2 separate regions of the Homo sapiens genome follow, and region 1 is linked to region 2. The links come from fine-mapping of genetic effects on gene expression. A gene starts in region 2. The other region holds a variant in brackets. All regions are shown on one strand. Distances are between the middles of the regions. Region 1 overlaps ATP8B4 (ATPase phospholipid transporting 8B4 (putative)). Region 2 holds the start of ATP8B4 (ATPase phospholipid transporting 8B4 (putative)).

Region 1 (15,963 bases), 54 kb after region 2:
GGTCACTTCCAGCTAAGGGCAGCTCTCAGTCTCCTGATTATGTGTCATTCCTCTTAATATGCCTGGGCTGCTTACAGATATCACCTTTGGTTCTAAGACCATAAGGTCAGTGACCTCACTGGCCAGTTCTGTATGGTTTATTTTTGGCTATGTTATATTTTGTGACTTTGTAGCAACAAACCCCACAAAGCATTCCTTGCCAGGATGCATTTGACTTTGTCAGCTCCTTCTCTTAGGAACCACTTGAAGTTAAGAGAAAGGGTCTTTGTGGTGCTGAAGATACATAGAAATTGGAGACACATAATGTTTTGCTTTATGGTTGGCATCAGGAGGACAATGAGAAACATTGTAGCTTTCCATTTTGGGACTTTACAACACATGTTCCAACATGTACACTGGAAAAAGCCAATACCTTCAAATTTGAAAGAAAAGAATTCTTGCAGCCTTAACAACAAAGCAACCTAAGTCTTGTTGTTTTAATGAGTTATTTGTTTCTCTGGGCCTACAATTTAATTTCATACTTGATTTCTCTCTCTTTAGAAGTGGAACGGATAGTGAAAGCCAATGACCGTGAATATAATGAAAAGTTCCAGTATGCGGTAAGTGAAACACACATAACACATACGTACTAGGATAGGTCTTACCTAAAGACAGTGGGATGCATGTCTTCTAGAACTTTATGACTTCACCAAAAACTTTCTTCATTGGCCCATTTTGACAGCAAGGTGACATATATTTCCATAAATACAGATCTTAGTAATGTTTACAAACATATTTCTCTCCCACTAAGAGTAGTTGGTATGCTTATTGTCATGGGAAGATGATAAAATCTCTTCTTTCTCAAGAATTGATGTTTAGCTCATTTTGGTACCCATTTGGTTAGTAGAATCCATAGGAATAATATGAAAATGGACCTTTTTGGTAGCACTTAGTGATGGATGTAGTGACGTTAGCTAGTGGTTGATGAATGGCATTTGAGGGATTTTCTCTAAGCAACTCAGGCTGAATGTGGAAAAATATATGTAAGATAAAGTTCCACTCCCACCATTCTGGAAGACAGTGTGGCAATTCCTCAGGGATCTAGAACCAGAAATACTATTTGACCCAGCAATCCCATTACTGGGTATATACCCAAAGGATTATAAATAATTTTACTATAAAGACACATGCACATGTATGTTTATTGCAACACTGTTCTCAATAGCAAGGACCTGGAACCAACCTAAATGCCCATGATTTGGGCATAGACTGGATAAAGAAAATGTGGCACATATACACCATGGAATGCTATGCACCTATAAAAAAGAATGAGTTCATGTCCTTTGCAAGGATGTGGATGAAGTTGGAAACCATCATTCTCAGCAAACTAACACAGGAACAGAAAACCAAACACTGCATGTTGTCACTCTTAAGTGGGAGTCGAACAATGAGAATACATGGACTCAGGGAGAGGAACATCACACAGCAGAGCCTGTCAGGGCCTAGGGAGCTAGGGGAGGGATAGCATTAGGAGAAATACCTAATGTAGATGACGGGCTGATGGGTGCAGCAAACCACCATGGCACGTGTATACCTATGTAACAAACCTGCACATTCTGCACGTGTCCCAGAAGTTAAAAACACACACACACATATATATACACACACACATATATATATGCGTATATGTATAGTGTGTGTGTGTGTGTGTGTGTGTGTGTGTGTGTATATATATATATATATATATATATATATATATATATATAGAGAGAGAGAGAGAGAGAGAGAGAGAGAGAGAGAGAGAGAGAGAGAGAGAGAGAGAGAGGCCGGGCACAGTGACTCATGCCTGTAGTCCCAACACTAGTTTGGGAGGCCAAGGTGGGCAGATCACAAGGTCAGGGGTTCGAGACCAGCCTGGCCAATATGGTGAAACCCTGTCTCTATTAAAAATACAAAAGTTAGGCATGATGGTGGGCGCCTGTAGTCCCAGCTACTCGGGAGGCTGAGGCAGGAGAACCGCTTGAACCCAGGAGGTGGAGGTTGCAGTGAGCCAAGATCGCACCATTGCACTCACTCCAGCCTGGGTGACAGAGGGAGACTCCATCTCGAAAGGAAAAAAAAACAAAAGATAAAGTTCCCAGGTCCTGAATGATTGTATTTACAGAATGATTACATGTGTGGGCTTTAGGCTTGTACTGAACAGTTTAAGTGAGGATTTTTTTCATTGATGTAAGGAATATTTATGGAATGTCTACTAAGTGACTGGCACTGTTGTAAGCTACAGTGGTGAACAACTTCATGAATTACATCATGGGCCTTCATAAAGATCTTATTCTTCTATGACTCTGTGTAAGTTGCTACCTGGAATCTTTTATAAGCTCTAAGATAGAAAACTGGTAGAGTAGTTTCTGTAGGTGATATGTGGCCTATAAGACCTGTTGTATGATTGAGTTTACCAGCACATTTAATGAAAGAAAGTCTCAATTCAAAGAGGGGTTTGATGGCTATTAAAGCATAGAAATATGAGAGTCCCAGGGGCAAACTTTGGCAGTGTCCATTAGGTACCAACTAGAGGAGAGAGAATTTTGGTCAGTGGAGTTTTTTGTGTGTTGTTCCTATTGGCAGATCTTTCCCATATATGGAGATGAATGCATTGGGCTATTATAGCTTGATTAATTATTAATCAATTATTAATTAATTAATATTAATATTTATTAATATTTATTAATATTTAGGAGAGGTAGCTTAAATTTCTCTTTTTTCGTGCTGTGCTAGTCATGCAAACTTGTGATTATAATTTGATTTTCAATGTAGGTTTCCCTGTAGGAATTCAGTATGCCACCTCCATGACAGATTTCTCATTGTAGAACAATATACTGGCATTCTGATTTTATTCATCAGTCTTGTAAGCTTGGTTAAAGTAAGTCTGCTCTTGAGACAAGAAATCCCTCTCAGGAGGCTGATCAACATGCTTCTTAGCCTGGGAGAGGGAGGGGCTATAATTCCCCAAGGTGACAAATGTCACTCTGTATGGCCTCCTGACATATGGTCATTCAGCTTCTCCTGGTGAACACCAGACTTGGCCCCATGCCTTTTCATCCATTCTATAGCCAGTCCTTTAACTGTGGAGAATGACCTCTGAAAGGCTTGACCATCAAGTCCCAAATCAGAGAGCTAGATACATGTATATTTAAGACCTTGAGAAAAATACCCAGCAATAACTAATCTGCTATGGGGTAATTATGCATTTAAGTACTTGGCTGCGTTTACTTGTTTTCCAATATGCAACAAGTATTTTCCTTCTGTGAGTAGTAACCCTATAAGGAAAGCCTTATTTCGTTTGTGCCTTGTAAAGTGATACGCTCTTTTCAATTTACAATTATTTTTGCTTAATTAATGGAATATTGCAGACTCACAGAGAAGCACGGGGAATAACAACATACCATTTGCCTACCACCCATATTGAATAGATGTTAACAATTTGCCATTGCTTCAGATCTTTCTTTCTTTTAAAAGTCATAAAATGCTAATGATATAGACATGATTTTCTCTTGAGTTTTCATGATATTGAACAAAAGCACGCACATGTGTGGCTGTGGCTCTTCTGTTGGGTTTCCTAACAATCACAAGGCAGTAGAGGAATATCCTGTGGCTACAGCAGATTGAACAAGGTAGCTCCATCTCTGAGTTAAAACATACCAAGATGGGCTGGGCATGGTGATTCATGCCTGTAATCCCAGAACTTTGGGAGTCCGAGGTGGGTGGATCACGAGGTCAGGAGTTTGAGACCAGCCTGGCCAATATGGTGAAACCCTGTCTATACTAAAAATACAAAAATTAGCCAGGTGTGGTGGTGCGGGGCGTGTGTAGTCCAGCTACACAAGAGGCTGAGGCAGAAGAATTGCTTGAACCTGGAAGGCGGAGGTTGCAGTGAGCCAAGATTGTGCCACTGCAGTCCAGCCTGGGTTACAGAGTGAGACTCCATGTCAAAAAACAAACAAAACAAAACAAAACACAACACAAAAAACCAAGATAAAATCAAATTCCACTATGGGTTGGCAAAACCAAGAATGACAGCAAAAGTGGAGAAAGAAAACTACAGAGCAGAGAGGGGCACAGATATCCCAGATTAAAGGACTTCCATTGTGGCTCAGAGAAAATGAGCACCTGCCATGCTCTTAGGAGCATGGGACCCCCAACTACACCTAGGTGGTGTTGCCTTGGTTTGGGAACACCCAAAAGGATGCCTGGCCATGCAGTGAACTGTGGAGCCTCTCTCAGCCTCAGTCTATTCTGCTATATGTTGGGGATAATCAAAGTACCTATTTAATACAGTTATTGTAAGGAGTAAAGTAGAGTAAAATACAACAACCCTATGAGCTAGTCTAAGTAGAGCTGGGATTTGAACCTATGCCTATCTGATTTTAAGCTTTTTTTTTTTAACCCCTAAACGGAATATCCTTTTAAGAAAGGCAGCATCCTGGTGTCTTTTGCTCAGTCTTGCCCAGCTTTAAAGAATATCACTCCAGATGGAAATGAATTTGGAGAGACTTCAGCATATCCCAGGGAGAGTGCTAATAATAATTAATAAAGATAGTGATAATGATAGCTTAAAACAGGTAGGGCTCACCATATGAAAGGCATGGTTCTAAGCACTGTACTATATTAAACTTATTTAATCTTATAACTAGTCCACGAAATACTCTTATTTCTTACTTTTTTATTACCTTTTTTAATATATGGAAATGTTAAGCCATTGAGATCTCACTTAAGTGACTTGCTCAGGGTCACACAGATAATAGCTCATATCCATACAGCTTGAACCCAACTGTGTACCAGGTGCTTTGAACGTATTTCAGGCTTCCACAAAACTTGCTGAGATGAAGATGGGGCTCCATTTAGTAACTTGTCTAAGTCATGCAACTAAAAGGTAACAAAGCTGGAATTCTAGTGCAGACTGGCCAGATTCTAAAACCTATATTTTTTTTCATGATGTCATGTGGCTCTTTTGAGCATTCTTGGAAAACAAACAAAATACAAATAAAACAAAAAAACAATCAACCAACCAAACAACAACAACAAAACAAACCCTAATCACTTTGCCTTTCCTCATATAACCACTGGTAAAGTTCTTATATTCTAAAGACAAAAGTAGATAAAGGAGATACACAATTTTACAATCTGAGGCTAAGAGTGGCCTTAAATATTACCCTGGGCTTTTATAGGTAAGAATTTAGGAGAAAAATTTACAGATAGCTCTGATAAATTGTGTGATTTCCAGAAACATTATGCCCGATCAGACAAACTTTTTTCCTGGAAGGCTGGCAGAAGATACTTCAATACCTCGAGAACCTTCATTTATCAACAAACTCTAAAGCTGCAAATCACATTATAGGACATCGCACAGGTTTAAAAATGATCAAAAGCACTTTTGAGAAATAAAGGTTTAGAACATAAAAGATAAGGTTAATGATTCTAAGTCAAATTAGTTTGTAAATTAGACATGATATTGTGAGAACTGGAAGGTAAAAACGTCAAATTACAAGAGGGATTTAGACTGCCAAAATGTGTAAGACAAAATGGGATTGAAGAGTGGAGGGAAAGTGAGCCAAGTGCTAGAAGAATTATTCTCATTAGAAGGGAGTTCAATGTTTTCTTGGTTAATAATAGGAATGAATAATAGAAGTAGAAAACAGTTGTTTTAAAATATGTTAATGTTAATAATTGTTAAAAGAAAAATTGTGAGTGAGCCAAACAGCCAGACTCATTCCTGTTAAAAGGATTTCAGAGTGAATGGTAGAAGTGGTGAAAACAGTTGAAGTTGTATTAAAATGTATTAATGTTAAAAGATCAGAAAAAGTGTTAGCTTAATTATAGCTATTTTCTGATTTTGTTTAAAAGTTCAAAAAGATGATGATGGAAAGCACTGGTTCTCGTTGGTTCTTCTTCTCTCACTCTCTGTCACATAGGCCCAGGCATGATCTATCCCCATTCAATTCTCTTGAACTTTAACAGAATTTGAGAAGGGAGATTAACTTATTTGAGTGATGAGAAACTTACCCTGCCTCAAACTCAGAAACTTCAGTAAAGCCAAAACACTTAATAAATTTTATCTGAATATATTTAATGCACAAAGGTAGGTAGGCAGTTTTTAAAGGATTTTTTTCCTGAGTGGAGTTATTGATCCCATTTAGGAAGTGCATAGGCTTATGTAAATTGATGAAGATTTAACCAGTAGTTTTACATGCTTAGAAAGAAAGAGTCCCACCTAAAAATTATGATTCTAATGCTGTAGTTTATTCCTAGAATCTGCAAATGCCTTGTTGATATCCTAGTTATTGGATGAAATCTATTTGCTGCTCCCATGATTTTTTGTGGTTGGTAAAACAATGCCCATTTGGATTTTCCAAAGTGTTCATTCAGTGCAACAATGTGGTTGAGTACCTCCAACCCCCAGCAGTCAGTGCTACAATCACACCACTAAGGCTCCCTGCAACATGAACTCCTTTTATTTCCCTCCCGCCCATTTAAATAGGACTTTGTACGTTTCCACAGTCAGCAAACTTCTCTCTCCTCTTAACTCAGAATCTAAGTGGTTGAGAGTAGAGTAGAAAAATATGGTTCACCATCATTCTCAGTGTGTGAGCCGAGATGGTCACTGGGCCTCTTTAGGCCCACATCATAATAATGTATCTGTGTTTCTCTGAGAAAAGACTGGCTTAACAGGAAAATTTCATGTTCCTGTGTGTGGGGTGCATAGACCATTCATTGTCCCCTTTTCTTTAATAGAAATAAAAATAATTTTCAGAATTTAATATTCACAACATACCTGCTCTATACCTAGCAACATGTATGTTTGTTGCCTTTTCCTCATTTATTTTCCAAACAGTATTTGCGGCAATGTACAAAAAGCATATAAAGCTCAAAGGGATAACAATACATGAAGAAGCTAGTGTAGGCAGAATATGTTTAGGTGGGCCCCAAAGTGCATGCTACAGGACGTGCCTGCTTAGACTAGCAGTGTGTTGAGTGCTACTGGAGCTATTAAGAAAGGGGGTACAAATTCTGCTTTCTACCTTCAAGGAGCAGATATAGTCTACTCAGGAAGAGAAGCCCAGCACACTAGAATGAAACTAATAATAGGTAAGAATGAAAAGGTGCTGTGAAATTCTAATTTTGTGATGTGGCCTGTAAATGCTAGGGAAAGGAGAGCTCAAAGTACACGAAAGTGTTTGAGGAAGTTTTGCCAGAGGAAGTGGGAAATGATTCCTGCCTTGTTTATTTGTACCACCACTGTTAGCAAGGAGAGACAGGAGCAAAAGCCTGTAGTCAGACCTTAGACTACAGGCTAAGAGAAGTGACAGTATGTCATGAGGAATTATGGTTTGGGTAGGTGAGAACAGACTATTTAAAAAGAGAGTTTAAACATGAGGTAATTGGCTGTCAGGAGCTGGGGAATCACAAAGTGAAAAGGGATTTTATTTGCCCTCCATATAAAATAGGCCAAATCCCCAAACGGAAATGGCCAGGTTAACACAGAACGTAAGTTGGGTGTGGTGGGAGCTGTAGATTTAGGAATATCGGCTGGAAGGAGAAACTTTGAGCTAGGAGAGAAGTGAGGCTTGTTAAGCAGTGATGGAACTTGCTAAATGTGAGGTATGGGGTGGAAACTCAGTTTGTTAGAGAGTGGGAGGGAAAGAACTTAAGAAGGAACAGAGGACAGCAAGGATTGAAGTGAACGAAGAGAGGACAGTGTAGGAAAGTGTTAAGGAAGGGAACGTCTCAGGAAAGAGGGAGTGGTGAACTGGTCTAATGGTAGGTGCCTATGAGGTTAAGAACTAAGGGAAAACATCTTTAATAGAAGGAAGTAACTGGAGGACCTGAAGAAAGCCGTTTTAATTTTTTAAGAAAGTTGAGGTTTAAAAGTCGGAGGGCAGAAAAAAACCCCACAAACTGTAAAAAAAAGAAAGAGGGGGTGGGGTAGAGCTAATTCAATTAATAGCTTGCAATAAAGAGAAGAGAAACAGTATAAAAGCTTTCAGGCTGACTGAAATTTGGTCAACCATTTTTAAATCAATCTTTTCACATATTTTGGCTTTTTAAGTATGTGTTTAAAATCCATGGAAAGGTAAAACTCCGTAAATATTTTCTTTGGGAGACTCTTGGGATGTCACCATGTTGAAACACATCCCCGGACTGATGGGACATTTGGGTCTCTATTCTTCTTGAGCAGCATAGCTGTACTGCCCACATGATGCAGATCCTCACCTATGGGGCTGATGACCAGATGCACCAACTAAAGAGTACAGATGATGACAAGCAGTGTGACACGTTGGAATTAGTCATGGAAAGCACCAGTAACTTGCATTTGTTATGGGTTTCTGGTTGTTAGTTGTTGCTTTTTTGTATTGGGGCATCACCATAGTAACAGTGGCTTTTTAGCAAACATTGAAAATGGCTTCTGTTTTGTGTGCTGTTAATATCTGTGTATGTTATTCTAAGTTTGACATGGCAAAGGTTTTAATTTTTTTCTTTATAAATAATTTACTTGTAGGAGAAAATATATTTTTTGGATATCTCTCAAATTCATTTTCTTTCTGGATTCAAGAGTATAAAAACATAAATATTTTTTATCTTTTTGACATCTGATTTGTTTAAATAGTGTTATTCTTTGGCTAAGCATTCGTCTGGTTTCTTGTTTCCCTAATTTAGTTTGCCTGTTTTAATCTTTTTTTTTTTTTT[TC/C]TGGCCTCTGAATTTCTATTCCTAAATGTTCTAAAATGGCATATTAAAGTAATTAAAGAATCTAGGTAAGTTCTCTGAGGTATTTGTTTGTTATTTACCTGTTCCAGGCTTGAGATAATTTCAGCATCCTCATAAACTAGTTCCCATTCCATCTGCTTTGAGAAGTAAATTTTAAGTTAAAAAAACAGATTTGGCTTATTTATTTATTTTTATTTTTACTTTCTTCACTGCAATGGTACAAAACTGAAAAGTATGCAAGCAATATGTAATTGGAATTACAAGAGTTAAAATAAGCAATTTTTGATGGCAGAATTTTGCTCTGTTATAGCTTGGCTGTAATGGAATAAATTTAAGATTGAGAAATGAAAAGATTACATAGAAAGAAGAGTAAGTTACTTGTGAAGAAGGAACTATAAATGGAGTTTCCTTTGTTGGCAAATGGTTCATGAAAATAATCCATAAATCAACTGTGTGGATGAAATTGGGCAAGTTTAGTAACAATTGAGAGGTTAACGGAAAAAAACCACTAACCCCAACGGTCTCAAAGTGGTTTTTATCTTGTTTTGCAATCTTCTTTACTGGACCAAATGGTCTGGTTCTGGGAATCTTATTGTTAAAAGATGGTAACAATCATGTTTTACATTTTGTTGTTGAAAGATCAAATCATTTATGTACCAAGGTGATCTTAACTTCATGTCCACTATTATGAAACTAGTACCAGATTACTGTCACATTTTACACCTGATTTTCTATGTAGTTTCTTTTTTTTGACAAATAAAAATTGTATATATTTATAGTACACAACATAATGTTTTGAAATATGTATAAATTACAAAATGGCTAAATCGACCTGATTTACATATGCCTTATCTCACATAACTTATCATTTTTTTATGATGAGAACACTTAAAATCTACTCTCATAGCAATTATCAAATGATATGATTTGGATCTGTGTTCCCACCAAATCTCATGTCGAATTGTCATCGCTAGTGTTGGAGGTGGGGCATAGTAGAAGGTGACTGGATTATGAGGGTGAAGTTCTTATGAGTGGGTTAGCACCATCCCCTCGGTGTTGTTCTCATGATAGTGACAGTGAGTTATCCTGAGATCTGGTTGTTTAAAAGTGTGTAGCACCTCCTCCCTCTCCCTTTTGCTCCTGCTTCAACCGTGTAAGATGTGCCTGCTTCCCCTTTGCCTTCTGCCATGATTGCAAGTTTCTTAAGGCTTCCTCAGAAGCAGAAGCCTCTATGCTTTGTGTACAGCCTGCAGAACCATGAGCTAATTAAACCTCTTGTCTTTATAAATTACCAGTCTCAGGTATTTTGTTATAGTAGCATGAGAATAGACTAATACATCAAGTATACAATTTGCAGGTTTATTACAAAAGTAAGCTACTTAGGCATTAAACTTGAAAATTCTTTAAAAATGATCCAAGACTTGGGCTATATATTTGTCAATAAATCTGTGTCTATTGCATGACTGTGTGCACGGAGGTAGTGTTGTAGTTGTGAGGAAGTGTATACAGTTTTGTAAGGATGTTTTTGCTTGAATAATGAGAGACTGTTCTCAGAGGAATTAAGCAGAGGACAGCAATCAGAGTCACATGCCAAGACTGTTGATCTAAATCTCTAGCTCCTGATACCCTTGACTTGGTGTCTCTAGCAGTCCTGATTGTACTGGGTTTTATGTGTCCTCCTTGGTTGTCAGTTCACATCATTACAGATGTGGCTGTTCAGGTGTCATCTAGGTAAGTTATAGATGGTGACATCATTGTGTACCAATTGTCCAAAAGTTTAGGGAAGAAGGGCTTTTTTTATACAAAAGGAAAAACCTGATTTCTTAGGTACTGCAAGGAAATTAGCTTCAGTACAATACACTGTGGAATCTCAGTGTGGAATTATCCTTTAAAGCTTTTCCATTCAACTCTCTTTACAGAATTCTAACCAACTCCATGTCCTGTCTGTGCTTTTATCCCTTTAGAAGAGGGGACCTCATTACCTCCCCAAACAGCCTTTTCTTTCTTTGGGTAGTTTTAATCATTAGGTAATTTTTCCATCAATTGAGCCAAATTGATATTCTCTTGCTTTATTTTCCATTGTTTTAGCTTTTCTTCAGAGACCAAAGCAGAGCAAACATGTCTTCTGTTTCATGCAACAACACTTCAGATATTTGTGTTTAAAATATCAAACACAAATTCATCAAATAAACAGATCTCCAGGAAAATCACCTGCTATTCCTTTTCTTTTCAAAGAGCCTCAGTTTTTCTATAACTTCTTCAAGTGGGTTCCTCCAAAGTCAAACACAATAGTCTAGAATTTATTTGACCATCTTGAAGTAGAGAAAGATTATTAATACAGTCTAAGACTGTACTATCTTTTCAGTGACTGTTGAGTCTATTAATCTCATATTAATTTTATTTTTATTGTTAATGACAAGAACCGTGTCACATTTATCTCCATATCTTGCTTGTCATAGGGCTTGTTGGCACATAATAGGCACTTACTCTGTCATTAAACTATTCCTTTTATTATTGTATCTATGTGGACTTTAGCATCTCTCTGTATTGTCATTGATAGTTAAACAAATGGGCCAATGAAATCAGAAGCTTTAGGGGTGGAGTCCAGGCATTTTTTTTTTTAAAGCTCCCCTAGTGATTCTAATGGGCAACCTGGATTAATCACTGATCTAAGTTAATAATAAAAATACTGAGCACAACACAATGAAGAACATGGCCATGCGTCTTATCACTAGAGACCTCCCTATAGGTTGCTGTTGGGCCATTAATCATTACATTTTGTTTACTTAGCTAGTTCCAATTTCTATAATGAACTGTCTTTGCTGGCAGCCCAATTTTTGTTTAATTATGTAGTAATATTGCTCTCTGTCTTAATAAGCAGAAAGGCTTTTTTTTTTTTTAAAGACATCTATTATAGTGCTGGTTTAGATTATTTCTACATGTATGGAAGCAGAAGGATAGAATGAATAACTGAACTTTGAAGATTCCTCCCCAAGTCATATTCCTATGATTCTTGCAAACCACTTAGTACCATGTGTGATATTTCAAAGACTCTTGTAGATTCAATACCACAAAAACGCCATTGTCCTAAGAAAGACGATTTTGAGGTTAGAAGCACAAATGAGCTGAACTTCTTTGCAATGCTTTGCAGAAAAAGAAATGCTTTTCTAGGTGAGAAAATGAGCTAAAGGAATATTTGATTTTTTTTCTCCCTTGTACTCTGATATGAGAAAATTAATAAACTGCATGTTGTGCTAAATAATGTGAAAAATCTATATTTGTGCTAATGCCTATCTTTCTCTGGCAAAAGAAGTTCTATAGGTTATGTACTGAAAATTATTGTGATGCATCATTAATTATGAAAAATTATATTAGCTCATGTTATTTTCTCATAAGTGGAATTGTCTTCCTCTCATATATTATTTTGTATTTTTTCCAATTGGGTTTATCAGCCATGTTGTCTTGGACTGTTCTTGCATTGCCATAAAGAAGTACCTGAGACTGGGTAATTTATAAGAAAAGAGGATTAATTGGCTCAGTTCTACAAGGCTGTACAGGAAGCATAGCAGCATCTGCTTCTGGGGAGGCTTCAGGAAGCCTCCAAACATAGTAGAAGGTGAAGGGGGACCAGGCACATCACATGGTGAAAGCAGGAGCAAGAGAGTGAGTGGGAAGGTGACATACACTTCTAAATGACAAGATCTCACTAGAACTCACTATTGTAAGGACAGTACCAAGGGGGATGGTGATAAGCCATCCCTTAGAAACTGCCCTCATGATCCAATCACCTCCCACTAGGCCCCACCTCCAACACTGGAGATTACATTTCAATATGAGACTTGGGTGGGGACACACATCCAAACTATATCACACGTATTGAGTAATTCTTGCTTATCACTTTGTTAAATGCTCTAGACACTTAAAAACGTATAAGGTCTCAGCCCTTCAGGAACTCTTGGAATTTTGAGATTATTTCACATGCATAAATGAAATAACAGTATTAGACATTACAAAGTTAAGTATGAAAATGAATAGTGTTAGCTTATAATAAACATTTTCACTGTATCTGAGTAAGGAAGATAATTTTCTAGGAAGAGATAAATGCATTTCTTTTCTTAAAGTTGTTCATATTGGTAATGTCTTTCAAAGAGAATGAAAGAATGGTAAAATACCATGTTTCATTTATGTAGTGTAAAAATGACCTGACTTGGCTTGAAAACTTCCCAACTTGCACTATACTTTGAATCCCTGTCTGGATTTGGGGAACCATTTGGCTACTCAAAAAGCCAAGTGCCAGTCACATGTTAAGTAGATCTAAACCTAAACTGACTGAAGATGATGAGCTCACTGAAAAGTACTTCCAGGGTATACTGGAATTGAATGCTTTAAATATGAAAAGCAGTTAATTTTTTTTGTTTCTTTAATTCAAATGTGAGTTTTATATAGGCTTATTAAAATCAATCAGATATTTTGACATTGGAATAGTTATGAATTTATGTTTTATCAACAAATAGTTATTACTAAATTCCTGAAACCGTTCAGGGCCTATATGCTATTGCCTGTGGAAATGATGCCTGTGTACTTTGGGATGTACATTTTTTAAAAATAAGAATATCTTTGATCCCTATTCCTTTTCCTCAGCCTGTTATGCTCCTTCTTGCTTCCACATTCCTGTGGAATTTCCTCCATGATTCCTTTATTTTCCAATTTGATGCTTGATCTGATCTTTTTATTTGCCAGAGCTTAAATTGAAAGTGGAGGGAAAAAAATCTGATTTTTCACTGATTTTTTTTTTATCCAATATACTTCTCTTAAAGGATTGAAAACGAAGTCCAGAAAAATATCTTCAGCTGAGTCAAAAGGGCACATTGTACTTCTAGCCTAAATCTCGGAGTAAGGCATTTCAGTGTTTCATCTGTGACATTGATTCAACTCCACGACCTACTGGGGGAATCCAGTACCTCCTAAAGTTCATAGTCTCTAGTGCACAAATGGGACTCCCTTGGATTTGTACTAATTTAACTTATATCAACTTTTGAAAAAGCTGCATGCAACCTTTCCTATATCACAGCAATTTGTGCCTATCAAAACTCTTAGAGCTCTTTAATACTCTGCTTCTTGAAGTGTGGTCCACAGACAGACCAGCATCATTGGCCTCACCTGGAGCTTGTTAGAAATGCAGACTCTCGGGCCCCACCACAAAACTCCAGGTGTATCACTGCATTTTAACAAAAACCGAAATGATTCATATACATATTTGAGTTTCAGAAGTTCTGAACTGATTCTCTCTTATTTTAGTTAGTAGTGCCTGGAAGATTTTGGCAAAAGCAAAGAGGTGGTGGTGGGGGCGGGGCGGGGAAAGTATTTAATTGTCAAGCACAATGCTAAGCACTTTACATGTATTATCTCATTTAATCTTCACAACAACTCTGCATGGCAGGTATTCCCATGCAAATTTACATGGGGGAAATGAAGGATTGGAGGAATTAAGAGAAAGGTCACTTAGTTGATAAAACATGGAATCACTTTTCAGATTCAGGACTCTAAGCCCTCACTTTTTTCTAAATATCTCTTGGGAAAATTGCACTCACTCAAGTATTATTTAATTGGATTGTTGTTTCGTTGTGGTGAATATGAGTAGATTTTTTGGGAAAAATGTCTTCAAGAAGTTCTTGAAGCTTTCCTGAAACCAGGTTTGTGAGGAAGGTCTTTGTTCTTAACCTGCGTGTATTAAGTTTAAGGCTTGAGGTGATCTGTCTTGTCACATAAGTAGTTCCCTTCAGTACGGCATGTCTGCCTGCCCTCCTTCCTTCCTAGTGGCAGCTTTTCTTTAGTTCTGGAATCAGAAAATTTCCTAGAAACCCAGGGGACGCTGTGGGTCATGGCTCTGGCTCGGCCGAGGCAAGTGCCTTTTAGCCTTTCTGGGTTTCAGTTTCCTTACTGAGGGTATAGGCAACTCATTTTACAGTACTGGAAATGACAATTGTGGGAAGAGAATATCTAAAGCAGGCTTGACATCTTGTGGAGTTATATACCAAGAAATATTAACCATTTGGGGAAAACCAGTTTCTAAAAAAGGGCTCAGGCCACAGACCCCTAGGTTTTGCCTCCTCCAGCCCTTCAAGTCCCTTGTCTCATTGATAGCACCCCTGGTCACCCTCAGAGGGAGGGATACTGGGCACAGTTGTCTATTCCTCTGACAAGCCTCCTGATTTTGTTCCTCCAAACCCTCTGACTTCTCTGGCTTCTTCCTCCTGAATAACTGACACACTTGCATAAGTGTCTGGATGAACTTTGTTTTCTAACCCTTATGCCAGATGGAGTGAATCGGGAAAAGGAACATGGATGAGGAATGCACTAGGGAAGAGGATTATGAAGGCAGTGAAATGAGATGGTGGAGGAGGTTCAGGAACTGCAGCCAGAGCCCTTGATTCATTCATTCATTTGTTCATTCATTCATTCATTCAAGGAACAGGGGAAAGGATCTAGTTTGCTTTATTTCACAGTTTTGTACGTTAACAGTTATTCCTAGCTGGCCTTCCTAGTGATGCTCTGGTGGATCATTAACTATTAAACAACTAAGTCACACTGTTATTTGACCTGAAGCCTGGTACTTAGAATTGTTCCCGTAGAAGTGGCTCAGTTGCAAATCAGTTCAGTGACTTAGAGGATCTGGCCTAGTGAGTTTTGATTGGAGACTCGCTGTGCATCTTCTCACCGTGCAGCTCTTGCTCTGCTCAGCATCCACATGGGCTTCTTATTGAATCTCCTTGTTGGCTCCTACAGAAGGCAAATGCCTATTTTTGTATATGTAATCAGGGAACTCCATTGTCAGTCCCCCAAAGCAAATTTATGATAGTCTTTATTTAACTCAGACTATCTCAAGCATAACCTCAAATTTGGTGAAAATTCCTCAAACCCGTTGTGCATGATATAATCACAAAAATTAAAGATTGGCACTTTATTCATAAATTATTATTGATGTGTTTTAATGATAGAAGATGCTTTAAAACTCTTTTTTTTTTCCCTGCCCTCCCCTACCTGCCCCATGTGGAGAATTTTCCTTCTGTATTTCCTGGTCTTCTATTCTCTCCCTCTCAACACCTCTACTCCCAAACAAAAGCCACTCAACAAAAAAAAAACCACAAAGCCAGGTGTTGTGGGTTTGTTTGAATATAGATTTACTCCCCAACCTGGCTGTGAAGGGGCTGGAGACCAGGAAA
Region 2 (15,963 bases):
CAGGTCCTCTGGATTCTCTTTGCACAAGCAGATCTTGTCATTTTGGCCCAGGCCTTGCCCTTCATCAGCCACAAGGAGGCAGGAACATAGCCTCAAGCATCTGCAGCCACCTTTCTCCTCCAGTGTTCCATACTGCTCCCAGCTTTGCTGGATCTGATGCTCTGATGGAGAAGGGCACCCTTCAGACCCAAAGGAAATGGGTGCTTAGCCTAGATTTTCCATGTGACTCCAACTCTCTGGATGTTTCTAAAGCCAGCTCCCTCTTGAAGTTTAGCTCTGAAGCTAGGAAAACCCAGGACTCTGGTGTCTGTCTCCATGATTCCCCTTCTTTCGCTGGTCTCTGGCATGACTTAACTCCATAAGTGTTCCTCCTGCTTTTCTGGGGTGATATTAATTCCTTCTTTCCTTGACAGACTGGATACAAAACGAAACACTGGCTTACTCAAAAGAGAAGCTCTGAAGGTAGCACCTTCCTTACCCTGAAATGCACAGAAACATGGGGTTGCACAAGAAGTAGCTCCATCATCTGCTCATCTGCTGTAGCTCCTGGGCCTTGAGACTGGGGCACACTCTACCTAAAGATGGCTCAGCATTGGTGGGGATGTGTGCAGAACCACAGTGAGGCACACCTTGGTATTGTTCATCTGAAATTAATATTTCTTCAAAGACAGACCTTACTGGTGTTTGTTCCTCTCCCTATGTATAATGGGATATCTCTAGAGGACAGGATGGTCCTAGAGCTGCCTTGAACAGTTTTATCTCCCTCCTGCCATCCGATGCTTTAACCTCCTGCTCCAGTGCAGTCTTCTAGTTCTGTAGGATCAATTTCTTTGCAATCGGTATTATAGCACAAGCTGCAGCAGTTTATTTATCTAAGAGAGAATGCGTCTAGGTTGCTATCCTCAGAGATAGTGTGTATAAGGCAACATTTGAGGCCTCCATGACTCAATTCTTGCCTAATCTTTGCCTGGTCTCTGATCCATTAGGACCTAGAAATTACATTGACTGATATACTGAGATGATGGCAAACTCACCTTTGCTCTCCACATTCACGATTGCTGTGGGATGTATGTTTGTGACTCACTCAAGCCATTTAGAATGGAAGCCCAAGTCACAGTAGAGGAAGGCCATTGTTACTGAACTGAACATGGGTCAGTTAATCTGCCTGCCCATGCAGCAAAGCCAAATACTAACACTGGGATTGATTTGCAGTGAGGAAAAGTGAAGCATTTATTGCAGGGTGCTATGCAAGGAGAATTGGGCAGCTAATCTTAAAACCCAAACCCCTTGATGGCTTCCATGTAAGAGTTTTTAAAGGCAGGGAGGCAGAGGTTCCAGGCAGAGCCATAAATCAATACATGGAGGCTATTGGTTTGACCTAAAAAGGGGGAGACATCTTGAAGTGGGGGTCCACAGGTTACAGGTAGATTCAAAGATTTCCCGATCTGCGATTGGTTAAGATTTGTTTAAAAACTTGGGGTCAGCAGAAAGGAATGTTGAACTCTGGCCTGTAGGTATAACTTCTGCCAGGCCCCTCAGGAAGAAATTTAGAATGAAGAACAGTGGTCAGATTTCAGTCTCCAGTTCCCCCTTCCCCAAGGTCTGTTGTGCCAGTGGATGGTGTTTTCCATTTGGTGGCGGGGGGGTGTGGGGGCTGTGGGCAGGTTTCTGCAAAACAGCTCAGGGACATATGTTAAGATGTTATTTTTAGTTTCTATTGGGACTCTAACTTCTTTGGCTATTGTTTCAAGCTATTATTACCTCCTTGCTTATCAGATTGCCTGCCACCCTCCACCAAGCATGGAAATAAAGGAAAATCTTGCGTTTCTTCAATGGAAATTCCAGGCACCTAGCTAGTCCTGAGAATTAAATGAGCAACTTGATAAGTAAGAGAGTAATAGTAGCTTAAAATAATAGCTAAAGAAGTTATAGTCATAAGATGTTTGGTTCTCTACAGAAGCTAAAGATAACATCTTGACATATGACCCTGAGTTTACTTTTCAGAAACTCGGACCTCCACCAAATGGAAATCTTTCTTGCACAAGGTCCAGGAACCTTCTCTTGGGATCTGGATTGGGATCCCTTTCCAGTAACAATATCAGGTCATCGGGACATTTCCTGGGTCTGTTCAGTAAACATTATTAACCTGTTCCCTTAACTGAAACTGTGTCTAAGAATGACTAATCTTCTGGGAATGTAAGATGGAGTTGCTCTGGTTCAAAGGCCTTGGACGCCTCTGACAGTATTAGTGAAGTGTTTTTTTTTTTTTTTTGGACTGTTAGCTTGTTAGGAACTAACAAGACCCTCCCTAACTCATCTACTCATCTTTCAGGACTCAGCTTCACTTGTTCTGAGGGTTTCCCGTGACACCTCCACACCCACACTGAAATATGGCTTCCCCTCTCCTGTAGTTCCGAAGCCTGTTTGGACAAGGGACACCTAAATTAGAGTTACTATCACATTGTGTCACAATTTGTTCACAACTATTTTCTCTTCCACTAGAAGGATTCTTGTTAGGGCAGATATCGACCTAAAAGAAAGAATCCCAGGCAAAATAGATATAACTAGAGGGTTTATTTGGGCCAAGCTTGAGGATTGCAACCTGGGAGCATAGATTCAGTTTTCTGCAGTTACAAGCTGTAGCAGCAGTTACAAGCAGGTTTTTAAAGAAAAGAAGAGGCAGTTTCTAAGTTGTTTACCAAGAATTTACATTAAAAATAACATAAGTTATTGATTGGCTATATGTTGTTTCTTTGTATTAAAATTCCAGGAACATGAAGATAATAGGTGAGGCAGGTAGTCAGGAACAAAATGCCTTTAAACAATTGCCCCCACAGATGGGTTTGGGGGTCACATGACTGAAATCTTAGACTCCTGTCTTTTTGGGCCTGATAAATTTTTCGAACCTCCCGTAGTGCAGACTGCTCTGAGCTATTTTTCTGTTCTCACAGAGACCAGGTCTCAGTTACCTTGGGGTCCCCAATGCCTTGCAGAGGGGTTGATACAGAATTGGGGCTTGGAAAATGGTGAAGAATGTGTGAAATGTCCCAGAGACATGTCCTGATTAAGAGCCTGAACTCCTTTGATCTTGGACCCTACACTTCCCAAGTGTCATATAAGGGGTAGGAAATTTTCACACCCAGTGACCTGGAGGACAGACTAAAAGGGTAAAGAGATGAAGAGCAGAGCGTCTCTTCTCATTGGGATGACAGTTTGCTAAGGAGAAAATGGGGCTGGAGTGAGTGTTAAAAGACCCTAAGTGTCTGGCTGCTCCTTGGGTCTTGGAGATTCTGAGATAACAAGAACCATGTAGCCCTGAAACTGATCCAGATCGGGTTCATTGTTCTACTACTCCTTTCTTGTAAATGCCCTGATTGTTGGAAGGACTTCTTATGATGTCAGTCTATAAAAAAGCGGAGGCCAAAAGTCTTTACTGGATACCCATTATGTGCAAAGAAGATACTATACTCCCCTGATAGCAAGAGATACATTATTTTAGGGAGTGTTTCTCTTGCTGATGCCAACAGCCTATTCCAGGATCCAGTTTTGGCTGTGGAGCATTCATCACTTGGAAATGAATTGTTAGAATGACTTTTACAACTAGAGTTGCCAATAGTCTGGCTTGGTGTTAGGCTGTCTGGTTTAAAGCTGGGTCATCTAGTTCTGGAACACATGGTTCAGATAGTATTTGAAAGGGCAAATTAAATGCAAATCACCTGGTTTTGGTGAGTGGGCTTGCATAACAACAAGCCCTGTAGGATCTATTGTTCTTGCTTGTGTCTGAGTGTCTGCACTGAAAGGGATATTCAGGAGAGCCCTTGAGGGAAAGTCCAGATCACTGTCAGGAGCTGGTTCCCAGAGGTGACATTTAGCACCCATAAATTTAGGTATCTTTTTTTTTCTTTTTAAAAATCTTACCAGCTTAATTGTAATGTAGTGGTGGATTTATATTACTTTAAGTTTAATTCCTGAAATTTTATTAGTAGAGTAGAAAAGTCCTCTACTTCTAAATCCGGGTCTCTATCTGTGGCTTAACTTCTAACTTCTTGTTTGCATTCTCTTATTCTCTTTTTGTTCTTTTCATGAGTTAGTTGAGTAATAAGTAAAACTTAATTGTGAGTCTTTTCATGGAGGATGGAAAATCCCACACAGGAAAGGGCACTACCAACAATGGGTCAGTCGTTTATGTTGGCCAATGTAAAGAAACCTCCTTTATTTCATAAAAGGTTAAGTAATTGGTGGGGAAATTGGGGTGGGGGAGGAGTTGAGTTACCTTCTCTTGGTGAACTTCGGCCCAATACACAGTGGAAAGTGCCAGATAATAAATGAAACTACAAGAGGTTAGAAAACTATACTTTCTTTTTAGATATTAAAGGCTATGAGGGCATATGTTACTTCAAAGACTTGTTGGATCTGTTTTTGAATGGGAGGCAAATTGGTTTCAATCACTAGAGAGAAGGGGGCGTGGTGGCCCAGGAACATTATTAGTGTACTGTACTCCTGTCACCTGCTGAGGTAAGGAGGTTCTGAATAACTGCTCTGGGGTGCAGGAAGAAAATACTAAAACTTTGAATTATCTTTATTGATATCATCCCTTTAAAATGTCTGTTTATGCTGTTTTATGGTGTATGGAAAGGATATGCTTGGGGAATACTGCCCTAGAGAGAGGAGAAGACAGATGGTTGGATCAGGATGAAAAAAACTGGAGATGTGGAGTAGCTCAGAATTCAAAGGTCTCATAACTGCCCAGTGGGTTCTCATTGCCTGCTGCCTGGACAGAGCCAATTTATTAAGACAGGGGAATTGCAACAGAGAAAGAGTTTAATTTACACAGAGGCAGCTGTATGGGAGACAGGAGTTTTATTATTACTCAAATCAGTCTCCCTGAAAATTTGGGGATTGGGGTTTTTAAGGATAATTTTGTGGGTAGGGGGTCAGAAAGTGGGGAATGCTGATTGGTCGAGTTGAAGATGAAATCACAGGAGGTTGAACTGGGTTTTCCTTGCTGTCTTCTGTTCCTGGTTAATTCTGTAAACCATTCAGGAGCAATATGGGGAGGTTCAGAATCTTGCAGCCTCTGGCTGCATGACTCCTAAGCCATAATTTTTAATCCTGTAGCTAATTTGTTAGTCCTACAAAGGCAGACTGGTCCCTAGGTAAGAAGGGGGTTTGTTTGGGGAAGGGCTGTTACCATCTTTGTTGCAAAGTTAAACTATAAACTAAATTTTTCCCAAAGTTAGTTCAGCCTATGCCCAGGAATGACAAGGACAGCTTGGAGGTTAGAAGCAAGATGGAGTCAGTTAGGTCAGATGTCTTTCACTGTCATAATCTTCTCACTGTTATAATTTTTGCAAAGGTGGCTTCAGTCTCCTATCTGTTCTGATAAAGAAAATGTAGTCGCATTTGGATTCTGGAGAGATAGTAAAGAAGATACTGACCTTTGTTAGACAATGGCTTATGTGACAGGTGCTGGGTTGTGTGCTATTTATTCTTATTCTATCACTGCATATACAATTTTCATATGAATGCATACTTTTATCCATTTGTTATTTATTTAATGAATATCTCATTTAATCTTCACAAACAGCTTGAGAAGAAGGTTTTAATCTTCCCAATTTTGCAACCAGGAAGTTAAGGCTTAAGGTGGGTGAGTAATTTACACAATGTTCTATGATTTACACTTCAGCAATTCTCATTCTTTAGTGAGTAGGTTTGCAGTGTAGACTCCAGTGTAGACTTTAGGAGATTCAAGTGGGCTTCTAGTCTGCTTGGAGCAGGTGGATAGTTCAAGAATATGCTTATAGAATTATGAAATACTTTGTTCTGATTTTCTTTCATTATTTAGTGCATATTCCCAAATTGCAATTTTAGGCCAGAGCTACTTCTCTGCTGTTTAGGCTGACACCAAGGACTTGGTTTGACATTTCAATCAACTCAATCTTCCCTTGTTGGCCTTAAAAGCAAGCAAGCAAACAAACAGACAAACACAACAAAACCTAAAACTTCTGTTATGACTAAATTCCAGGTAATCAATTAAATCTTAATTTATTTTATTGTTATTAAATTGAATTGACATAAAGTGACTAAATCTACTATTTGTCAATCCCATTCTCAATGTCAGAGACTTAAATTGCAGAATCTCCTCATCTGCACATCTGATTCCTTCCAGCAGCTGATAAGCATCACAGGAGCAGGAATCATATTTTGTTCATCTTTTCTATGTCCCACAAAGTGTCTAGCAGAGTATTTGCATTTGTTGAATGAAAATATGTTAGATCAATTTCTTCCAACTGTAGATTTCAAACTATAGGCCAGGCCATCCCACTTGTTACAGGTAGTTAATCTGTTTATCTAAAACCATAATTCATTGGCTTTCTTAGCTATCTTGGCAGTTAGGCAAGAGATATTTACAGGTTCTAAGAAACATAAGATGCTATTTATTCCGTTGTATATTAGACTTATAGTTGTGTGGTTTCAGATTCTTAAGAATAAAAATTTCCATCTCTTCGTTTTGATGAAATGTGTGTAAAGTTGGAGAACAAGGTAAAAGAGTGAGTAAATTCAGAATTCTTTTTTTCTCTCAAATGCTCAGATACTTAATTAAAATTCCTTTAATATGATCACGAGATTTTTGTCAGGACAAGTTGAGATGATCCTTGAGAAAGCACTTTGAAAACTCTAGACTACAGACATAAAGGACGTTTGTCAAAAGTAAGGCTTTAAAACAAAATAAGGCCTCTTGAAAACACAGACCTGGCGTTCTGACAGTGCACATACTGCCTAATAGGGATGAAAGTTTAAGCTCTGTTTAGCTACCTTTGTATAATGGGAATAAAAGGTTTTTTTTTTCTTGTATCCTAAATCGAGAATTTAAACTGTTTTCTGATTAGCAAGGGTTTGCAGTCACACTAGTAATAGTCCTCTATAAGATGGACATCCTTCTCTGTTCCCCGTCTTTCTACTCCTTATGAAGAAAAAGTAGAAATTTTTGAAAAAGTTGTGCTAGGTATACATAACATGACATTTATCATTTTAACTACCTTTAAGTGTACAGTTCAGTGGCTTTAAGTACATTCACAGTGTTGTATAACTATCACCATTATCCATCTCCAGGACTTTTCCATCATCCCAATCTGAAACCCTGTACCCATTAAACAATACCTTCCCATACTCTCTTCCTGCAGCCCTTGGTAGCCTCTACTCTTTCTGTCTCTGTGAATTCACCTATTCTTCTTGCTGAGCCTTGCTGTTATCATTATTCATTCGACATTATTCATTATTCATGAGTGCTTATTATGGACACCAGGAGTTCAACAGTAAACAAAAGTCCCTGCTCTCAAGGAGCTTTTATTTTAGTGGGAGGGAGACAATAAACAGCGAGCACATTTAAAATATTTTTTAAAAATGAGATTATCTTATACACAATTCTTCTGCAACTTGATCTTTTCACTTGACAGTACATCTTGGACATCTTTTTCTATGTCAGTCTGAAGAGGCCTATCTCTTATTTATAATAGCTAAATTTATTGAGTCTCTACTTTGCTCCAGGCACTGTTTTAGTTGCAACAATCCTATGAGGTAAGTTCTATAATGATCATCTTTTTACAGATGGCCCAGATAAGTGTAGGAGCTTGCATAGTCACCTGGCCAGTCACTGGTGGAGACAGAACTAAACTCAGATGACCTGATTCCTTACTCCAATTCTACCCTCTTTTGAATGGCTACATAGTACTCTTTTGTATCAATATACCTTAACTTATTTAGGCAGTCTCTTATATGTAAGCCATTTTTAGGTGTTTTTTTGTTGTTGCTATCATAGTGCTATAATTAACATATTTAGAGATATGTTTGCACGTGTGTGTGGTTTTCTATAAGGTAAATTCCTAAGAAATAAAAACACATACACATTTCAATACTTGATAGGCACTACTATACTCAGTTTCCTTTAAAAAATATTTTACCAATTTATATTCCCACTAACAGTATAGGAAAAGGAAAAGGCCCTGATTTCCTTATATCTTCTTTAACAAAGGGAATTACCAAACTTATATTTGCCCCATATGATAGGTTTAAAAATGGTATAGAGGTGATACTTAAAAATGTTTTTCACTTAAAAGTGTTTTTTATTTTAAATATTTTAAAGAGATGATTGCTTCCTGCTCTAAGCTGTTCTTGGTCCTCTTTTATCATGTAAGAAAGAAAGCCATCTCTCTTATTTCCAGAAATCTGTAGTTTCTTGTTACTGTGGAACCTTGGTAGGAAAAGGCCCTTGTTTCTGTGAAAACCTGAGGGCCCAGCGTGAGGATGTTCCAGGAGAGTGGAGTTGATGGTGCGCAGGGGATTAGCTTGCTCTGGTTATAGAGACATGATTAAAATCTATTTGATTTCAGTACTTAACTGGCAAATCTGATGCAACTTCTGGAAAATTCCTAGATGGCTTTAGGCATATTTAAAAGAAGCCATATTTTTCCTTTTAAAAATAGATATGCACCAAAATATTTTATTTTCATCTAATCCCGCTTTAACAACCAGAATCCCCTTAAAAGCAATTCCAAACTAAAAGATGTAAATCCATTTCCTATGTGCATTTGTTCTTTGGTACCATCAGGGTTAATGTTTGCATCCTCTGTGCTGAAATTAAGGATGTTGGGAAAGAAGTGTCATTGCTTTGCCTACTAAATGTCACTTGAGTATGCTTAGCTTTCATCCATAAGAGAGCTGAACTTCCCCTGTAAAAAAAAAAAAAAAAAAAAAAAAAAAGTGACAAAAACCCACTGCTGATTCTTTCATCTCTGCAAAAGCAGGTGGGAACTGCAAACAGATTTGCTTATCTTCCTCAGTCAAGGGCTGGTAAAAGTTTGGTAAGTAGGCCTGGTAGCCGGTGTCCCCTTCCATTGTTCATTTTCATCCTCCTGAATTCTTGATTCCCACAGAGGAAGCCATCCTCAGAAGCCAGCCTCTTGGGAGTTTCCTTTTGTTTCCCCAAGATTAACCAGTTCTGTCCTGTCAGCAGGAGCAGGCAACTAGGGGAGGAGAGGCTCTTCAGGGCTTTCAGCATTTTTCCAAGGAGTGCTTTTCTCCCTCAATTCCTCACTGACAGTGAAGCTGCTTTCTTGTAAGGTCTTCCTCTTCTTCTGATGAGATGCTGATTCTGATTGCCATCTAGCAGCTTCCGGTGGTGGTAAGTGGTCAAGAGTGTTTTTCCAGGAGTTGATCTCAGGTTTTTGAGAATGCCCCCTAGAGACCCAGTTTGTTTTCTGTATCATCCCTCAAGCTTTCAGAGTAGCCTTGCTTTTCTCCTTGGCATGGTCACGGAATGGATACCTGTTTGATCTTCCTGCACTGCTGAGAAATCTTCCTTTTGGGGGAGAGGATTAAGTCTGGGTTGAGGTGAGTAGATGGGTAGCATTCAATGGTTAGTGAGATGAAGTGGAAATTTAGCTGTGGGCTGGTTGGAACGATCTGTTTCTTTTCTCCAGATCCCTATTTTGTTTTGCTGTTTTCATCTTGGTGACTAAGGTTTCACAAATATTCTTTATTATTCCCCTTTTGCTAAAAAATAAATTTGGGGGAGTTAGTTGGAAATGGGAGATGTGACATTTTCTTTTTTGTTGTTTGAAATGTCTATTTTTTACTCTGTTAGCATGCCTATTAAATGACCAATGATAGTAGCATAAAGGTACATTTCTTCTTGGTTTGTAGGTCTTTGTCACTTCCTTTGGTAGTAGTTGGTTTTATTTTTTTCACGGGGTTTGTATACAGTGCACCTATTCAATATATTGTTTATGGTCAATTTATGCTTTAGACATGAACAGTTTGCACTGAGCTATCCCTCTGAGGTTTGAGGGTTATGTTTTTAGTGCTAAAATTTGTCTGAACAGAAAAAGGTATCCTTCTAGTTGTTTTGTTTATAGGCAAGAGAGTGTCTCAGGTCCCTGGTTAACAATTAGCTGTTTTGAAGAAAAGAAAACTGGTGAAAAACATTAATTGGAAGCTGAAGTCTTGTTAGAAAGTAAATGAGGAAACACAGGTTTTCTTGTGGGATTACCAACACCTGTGCCCATGAAGTATCCCCTTTTACTCAGCTGTTGCTCCATGCTGGCCTTTACTACAAAATGTAAACTCAGAGTGATTTCAGTTTTGATTTTTTTAAATGTATTTTTTATTTTTTATGTGATATGTAATAACTGCACATATTTATGGGGTACATGTGATATTTTGGTATATGCATACGATGTGTAATTAGCATATATATCACCTCAAACATTTACCATTTCTTTGTGTTGGGAACATTCCAAATCTGCTAGCTATTTTGAGATACAATAAATTATCATTATCTATATCGTTTATTTTATCGTTTATATCTATATCGTTTATTATAAATAAAAAATAAATTATCATTATCTATTGTCATACTACCGTGTTATCAAATACTAGAACCTGTTCCTTCTATCTGACTGTATGTTTGTACCCATTAACCAGCCTACCTTCACCCCCTTCTTCCTCTTCCCCTTCCTAACCTCTGGTAACCACCATTCTCCCTCTCTACCTTCATGAGATCAACTTTTTTAGCTCCCACATATGACAGAGGATATGTGATATTTGTCTTTCTGTGCCTGGCTTATTTTGCTTAACATAATATCCTCCAGTTCCATCCATGTTGCTGCAAATGATAGAGTTTTATTCTTTTTCATGGCTGAATAATATTCCATTGTATATAAATACCACATTTAAAAATTTTATTCCTCAAGAAGAAATATTATTGCTTCCATATCTTGGCTATTGTGAATAGTGCTGCAATAAACAGGGGAGTACAGATATCTCTTCAAGGTACTTATTTCCTTTCTTTTGGATGTATTCCCAGAAGTGGGATTGCTGGATCATATGGTGGATCTGTTTTCACTTTTTTTGAGAAACCACAGAGTGATTTATTTTAACCTATATTGTGCCTTTATATTGTCTCATCATGCAGAAATATTTAAAAATGAGGGAACAAATGATTTTTTTTGTGCCCCTGGAGGATTTTTTTGTGGGTGGGAGAATTTTATTTTTTTCATATGTGGCATATTGAATATTTTCATTTAGTAGGAAAAGAGTTAACTAACCATCTAAAAGTAAATTGGAAATTGTAGCTGTCATTGAAATTAAACTTAATGTATGTTTGGCCAGATGCAGTGGCTCATGCCTGTAATCCCAGCACTTTGGGAGGCTGAGGCAAGTGGATTACTTGAGGTCAGGAGTTCGAGACTACCCTGGCCAACATGATGAAACGCCCTCTCTACTAAAAATACAAAAATTTACCAGGCATGGTGGTGGGCTCCTGTAATCTCAACTACTCAGGAGGCTGAGGCAGGAGAATCGCCTGAACCGTGTGGTGGAGGTTGCAGTGAGCCGAGATCAGGCCACTACACTCCAGCCTGGGTGACAGAGCGAGACTCTGTCTCCACAAAAAAATAAATAAATAAAAAATAAAAAACAAAACTTAATGTGTGTAATCTAAATTCTTGTATAGCATGAGTAAGAATTAGAAACAAGTATTTATTTTTAGAATCTCTCATGAAAAGATATTAAAAAATAGTAACCTCCTAGCAACATTATATATTTCAAATATTAATAAATTCTAATTAAATATTAAATATTATTGATCATTATGTTTTTGGAAACATGTTCCTTCCTTACTTTAAAGCTACCTTGCTTTTCTCTCTCCTTTTATTTACTCAACTGGAGTTTGAGTACCTACCCAGTGCCGGGCACTGTACTAGATGCCTAGGGGAAAAGGTCACAGAGGGAGGGCCACAGCATTTCATTTCAATGGATCCTTCACTGACCTTTCTTTTGAAGTTGAGCGCCCTCTAGAGCTCTGTCCTTGTTCCTCGTCCTCTGTCCTTTCCTCACCTCTCTTTGTTCTTGTCCTTTCTGGGTGAGGTCATTCATTCCCCCTTGACTTCACTCCTTCCTTATATGTTGATGATTCCAAGTCTACAAATCTGTCTTTTTGTCTTTAGTGCTGTGAGGATGTTTTCAATGATCAAGAGGCATTTTAAGCCCACATGTTCAAACTAAATACATTATTTTTTCATCCCAATTCCTTCTTCTGCCCCTCCACCTTCTCCTCCTTTTCCCTTCACTGCTGTATTTATCATCATAGTGGCACCTCTATTCCCTCAGTGTCCCAAGGCAAAAACCTGGAAGTCACCCCAGATTCCTCCTTGTTCTGCATCCAAACACACAGACCATTTATTTTATTTTATTTTACTTGAACAGACAGGGTCTCACTATGTTGCCCAGGCTGGTCTCTAACTCCTGGGCTCAAGCAATCCATCTGCCTCGGCCTTCCAAAGTGCTGGAATTACGGGCATGAGCCACCATGTCTGGCCCATACAGATCATTTATAGACTGCATATTTAACTATGGAAACATTTCTAGAATTCAGCCCCATTTGCCAGTTGTCATTGCTCCTCCATCTCCTCTTGTGCCAGCCCAAACTGTGAGATTAACCTTCCTAAAATCCCTGACAGCCTGGACTGGCACAGAGAGACAAAAGGGAACAAGGATAATGGAAAAGAGGGCTGAATTCTAATTGTGCCATTCTACTTAGATACCTCTTCTGTCTCCCCGCAACCTGCAGGAGCAACCACAGGATCTTGACCATGGCAATGCTCTCTGTCACCTTATCTATAAAATGGGGATAACGGTAATTCCTGCTCGTAGAGTTTTGGTGAGGACTGAATAAGACAACACGTGTCAAGTTCTTAGCACAAGGCCAAGTCCCCAGTGAATGGCAGTGACAATGAGGACAATGATGAAGATGATCCTGTCTTTCAGAATCCAGCTCTTACCTGCCTTGCCAGCCCCATATCACTGCACATTCTTCCTATGCCTGTATGATCTGCTTGCCATGACTATCACTGCTCCGCAAACCTTCCTTCCCTTTCACAACACTTGGCCTTTCCTCACGCTGTTCCTTTGACTTGTCCTTACCTTGTTTTATTTAGCAAGCTCTTCTTTTCCTTTTAAAAGGACTCAACTCAGAATTGCCATCTGTGAGGTCTTCGCTGACTCTGCAAAGCAGGCTTGGTGACTGCCTTTCCTCTGCCTCCATAGTTCTCCATCCCTCCTTCTACCATAGCCCTGCACTCATCATCCTTTTTTAAAATTTTTATTTATTTATTTATTTTGAGACAGGGTCTTCTGTGTCACCCAGGCTGGAGTGAAGTGGCACAATCACAGCTCACTGCAGCCTTGAGCTTCTGGGCTCAAGTGGTCCTCCCACTTTAGCCTCCCAAGCAGTGGGACTGGAGGCATGAGCCACCATGCCTGGCTAATTTTTTGTAAAGACAGGGTTTCGCCATGTTTCCCAGACTGGTCTCAAACTCCTGGACTCAAGTGAGGAGATAGAGGGCATCTGCCCACCTTGGCCTCCCAAAGTGTTGGGATTACAGGTGTGAGCTACTGTGTCTGGCCTACACTCACGATTCGAATGGTCTTTTATGTTTCTGTCTGCTCTCATCTTCCCCAGACTGTGGGCTTTTGAAAGACTGGAAATGAATTTTTGCCTCCCTCATGCCCAGCCCATGTTAGCTATAGAGTAGGCACCTGATAAGTCTTTGATAATTGAATGTCAGTAGAGGGAGGACATGGTTCTCAAATTTGGTAGGAGGTTTTTTCCATGTGGAGAGTTAAAAAAATACATTTTAAGAAAAATAAAAATAATCATCGCTTTCCCTTATTGAGTACTAACTTTGTGGCAGCAGGCATTGAGCTAATTTCTTTATGGAGATGGCTTGGTTTAGTTTTCCTAGTGATCCTATGAGTTACTCTGATTGTCCACAGAGGAGAAAACTGGAGCTTAGAAGGGAGGGGAACTTGCTTGAGATTCTAGGGTTAACAGGAGCAAACTTGGGCGGCCTAACGCCAGCACTGGTGGAGCAATAGGGAAGTGAGAAGAGGAAGGAAGATGGCCAAAGCAGGGTTGAGAGAAGAGGGACAGGATGAGGACAAGGAGGGGAAAATGAGAAAGAGACCAGCAAGAGCAGACTAGGAAAGGAAGAGAAGGGAAGGAGAAAAGGAAACTAGAATGCATTTCTGTAAGTACTTCCAATGTTGCCTGAAGTTTTGATTGAAGTAACTCAGGAATGGAAAACCAAACATCGTATGTTCTCACTTATAAGTGGGAGCTAAGCTATGAGGATGCAAAGGCATAAGAATGGCACAGTGGACTTTATGGACTCAGGGGGAAAGGGTAGGAAGGGAGTGAGGAATAAAGGACTACAAATTGGGTGCAGTGTATACTACTCATGTGATGGGTGCACCAAAATCTCACAGATCACCACTAAAGAACTTACTCATGTAACCAAACTGTTTCCCAATAGTCTATGAAAATTAAAAAAAAAAAAAAAAAAAAAAAAAGAAACTAGGAGACCAAGAAGGAAAATGAACAGGGGATATGTGAGAGGACGAAGAGAAGCTTTGAAATGTTGTGGCTGGGTAATGGCTGCATGACTAGAATATAAAGAGACTCCTGTATGGACATGACAACTCACAACAATTAACCTGCTGTATGTTATACAGTAAATATAACAATAATTTATTGTTGAGGCACGGTAATTGCATATACCTGTAGTTGCAAGCCATTTATAAATTTGGCTTTTTTTTTTTTTTTTTTTTTTTTTTTGAGATGGAGTTTCGTGTTGTTGCCCGGGCTGGAGTGCAATGGCATGATCTCAGCTCACCGCAACCTCTGCCTCCCGGGCTCAAGTGATTCTCCTGCCTCAGCCTCCTGAGTAGCTGGGATTACAGGCATGTGCCACCACGCCCAGCTAATTTTTGTATTTTTAGTAAAGACGGAGTTTTTCCATGTTGGTCAGGCTGGTCTCGAACTCCTGACCTCAGGTGATCCACCCACCTCGGCCTCCCAAAGTGCTGGGATTACAGGTGTGAGCCACCGCTCCTGGCCTTATAAATTTGGCTTTTACACACACCCATACGTACACACATACACACATACACAGATTGGCTTAATTTTTTTTTTACTTCTACTTTTGTACAGTTCCTACAATCTACAAGCACTGTGGCTATTGGCAGCTGTCACTGATACCAAATAGAATTATCTTTAGCTCCCACCCTCACCCTCACACTCAAAACTGCACACATGCAGGACAGAAGCCTGGGCTTGTTCCTTTTTCTCTCGCTGTCTCAGCTCCCAAGGCTGAGATTACTCTGCTTCATCTGGATCGCCCATCTCTGGGGTCTCATGGCTGAGTTTCAGTTCCCCAATCCTACCTGCTCCTCAGGGGGCCAGCACTGGGGCTGCAGGTAATATTTTGGGTTGGCAGGCAGGGATGCCTGTGGGACAGCAAGGTCACCCCTACATGGGTCCCAGGGTGGGAGGACTCTCTGAGGCTTTGCTCTTCAGGCTCTGGGAACCTAGGGCCAGAGGGAGGAAGGGGGAAGGGCTGGGCAGCTGGAGGAGAGAAGGGCTTGTTCCTTCCTCCTGTCATCCTTGCTTGACATCCTAAGACCCAGCTCCTGCTCAAGACCACACTGGTGCAGCCCTCACAGGGAGCCTCTTCCTCTCCACGCTTGGTTGGGTTAGTCCTCAGAGAGATGGTGGGTTGGGATGGGAAGCAGGGGCCTTGTTGAGAATTGTGAAAAAATGTTAGGGAAACGGAAAGGAAACTGGGAGAGAAGGAGATGGAGTAAGAGGAGAAAAAGTAGACTGGGGAGGTGGAAATGAGATGGAGGGAACACACTTTTATGGAGTGAACTGTTCTTACCTGTGTACTTAACCTCACACAGCTTGGAGGAAGGCATTCCCATCTCCACTTTACAGATGTGGAGATTGAGTCTCAGGCAGGGTACATGACTTGCTCAAAGTAATGCTAGATAGAAAGCCACTGAACTGGGACTTGAACCTTGCTATTCTAAAAGTCTCTCCTGTGTAACACTCTGCCTCCAAAGAGG

What was found.
Region 1: its variant is fine-mapped to the expression of ATP8B4 in monocytes (CEDAR, PIP 0.94).

Annotation. Positions count from the first base shown.
Region 1 is chr15:50,058,763-50,074,725 of GRCh38, reverse strand. ATP8B4 (ATPase phospholipid transporting 8B4 (putative)) reads left to right here. Exons shown (of 28, transcript NM_024837.4): 3 at 541-599. Among named protein-coding and RNA genes, the nearest start is that of ATP8B4, 52 kb to the left of the region's middle. The variant TC/C (reference allele first, on the strand shown) is at 8,722.
Region 2 is chr15:50,112,550-50,128,512 of GRCh38, reverse strand. It overlaps ATP8B4 (ATPase phospholipid transporting 8B4 (putative)), which reads left to right and starts at 9,280. Exons shown (of 28, transcript NM_024837.4): 1 at 9,280-9,390. RefSeq lists an enhancer at 11,563-12,076.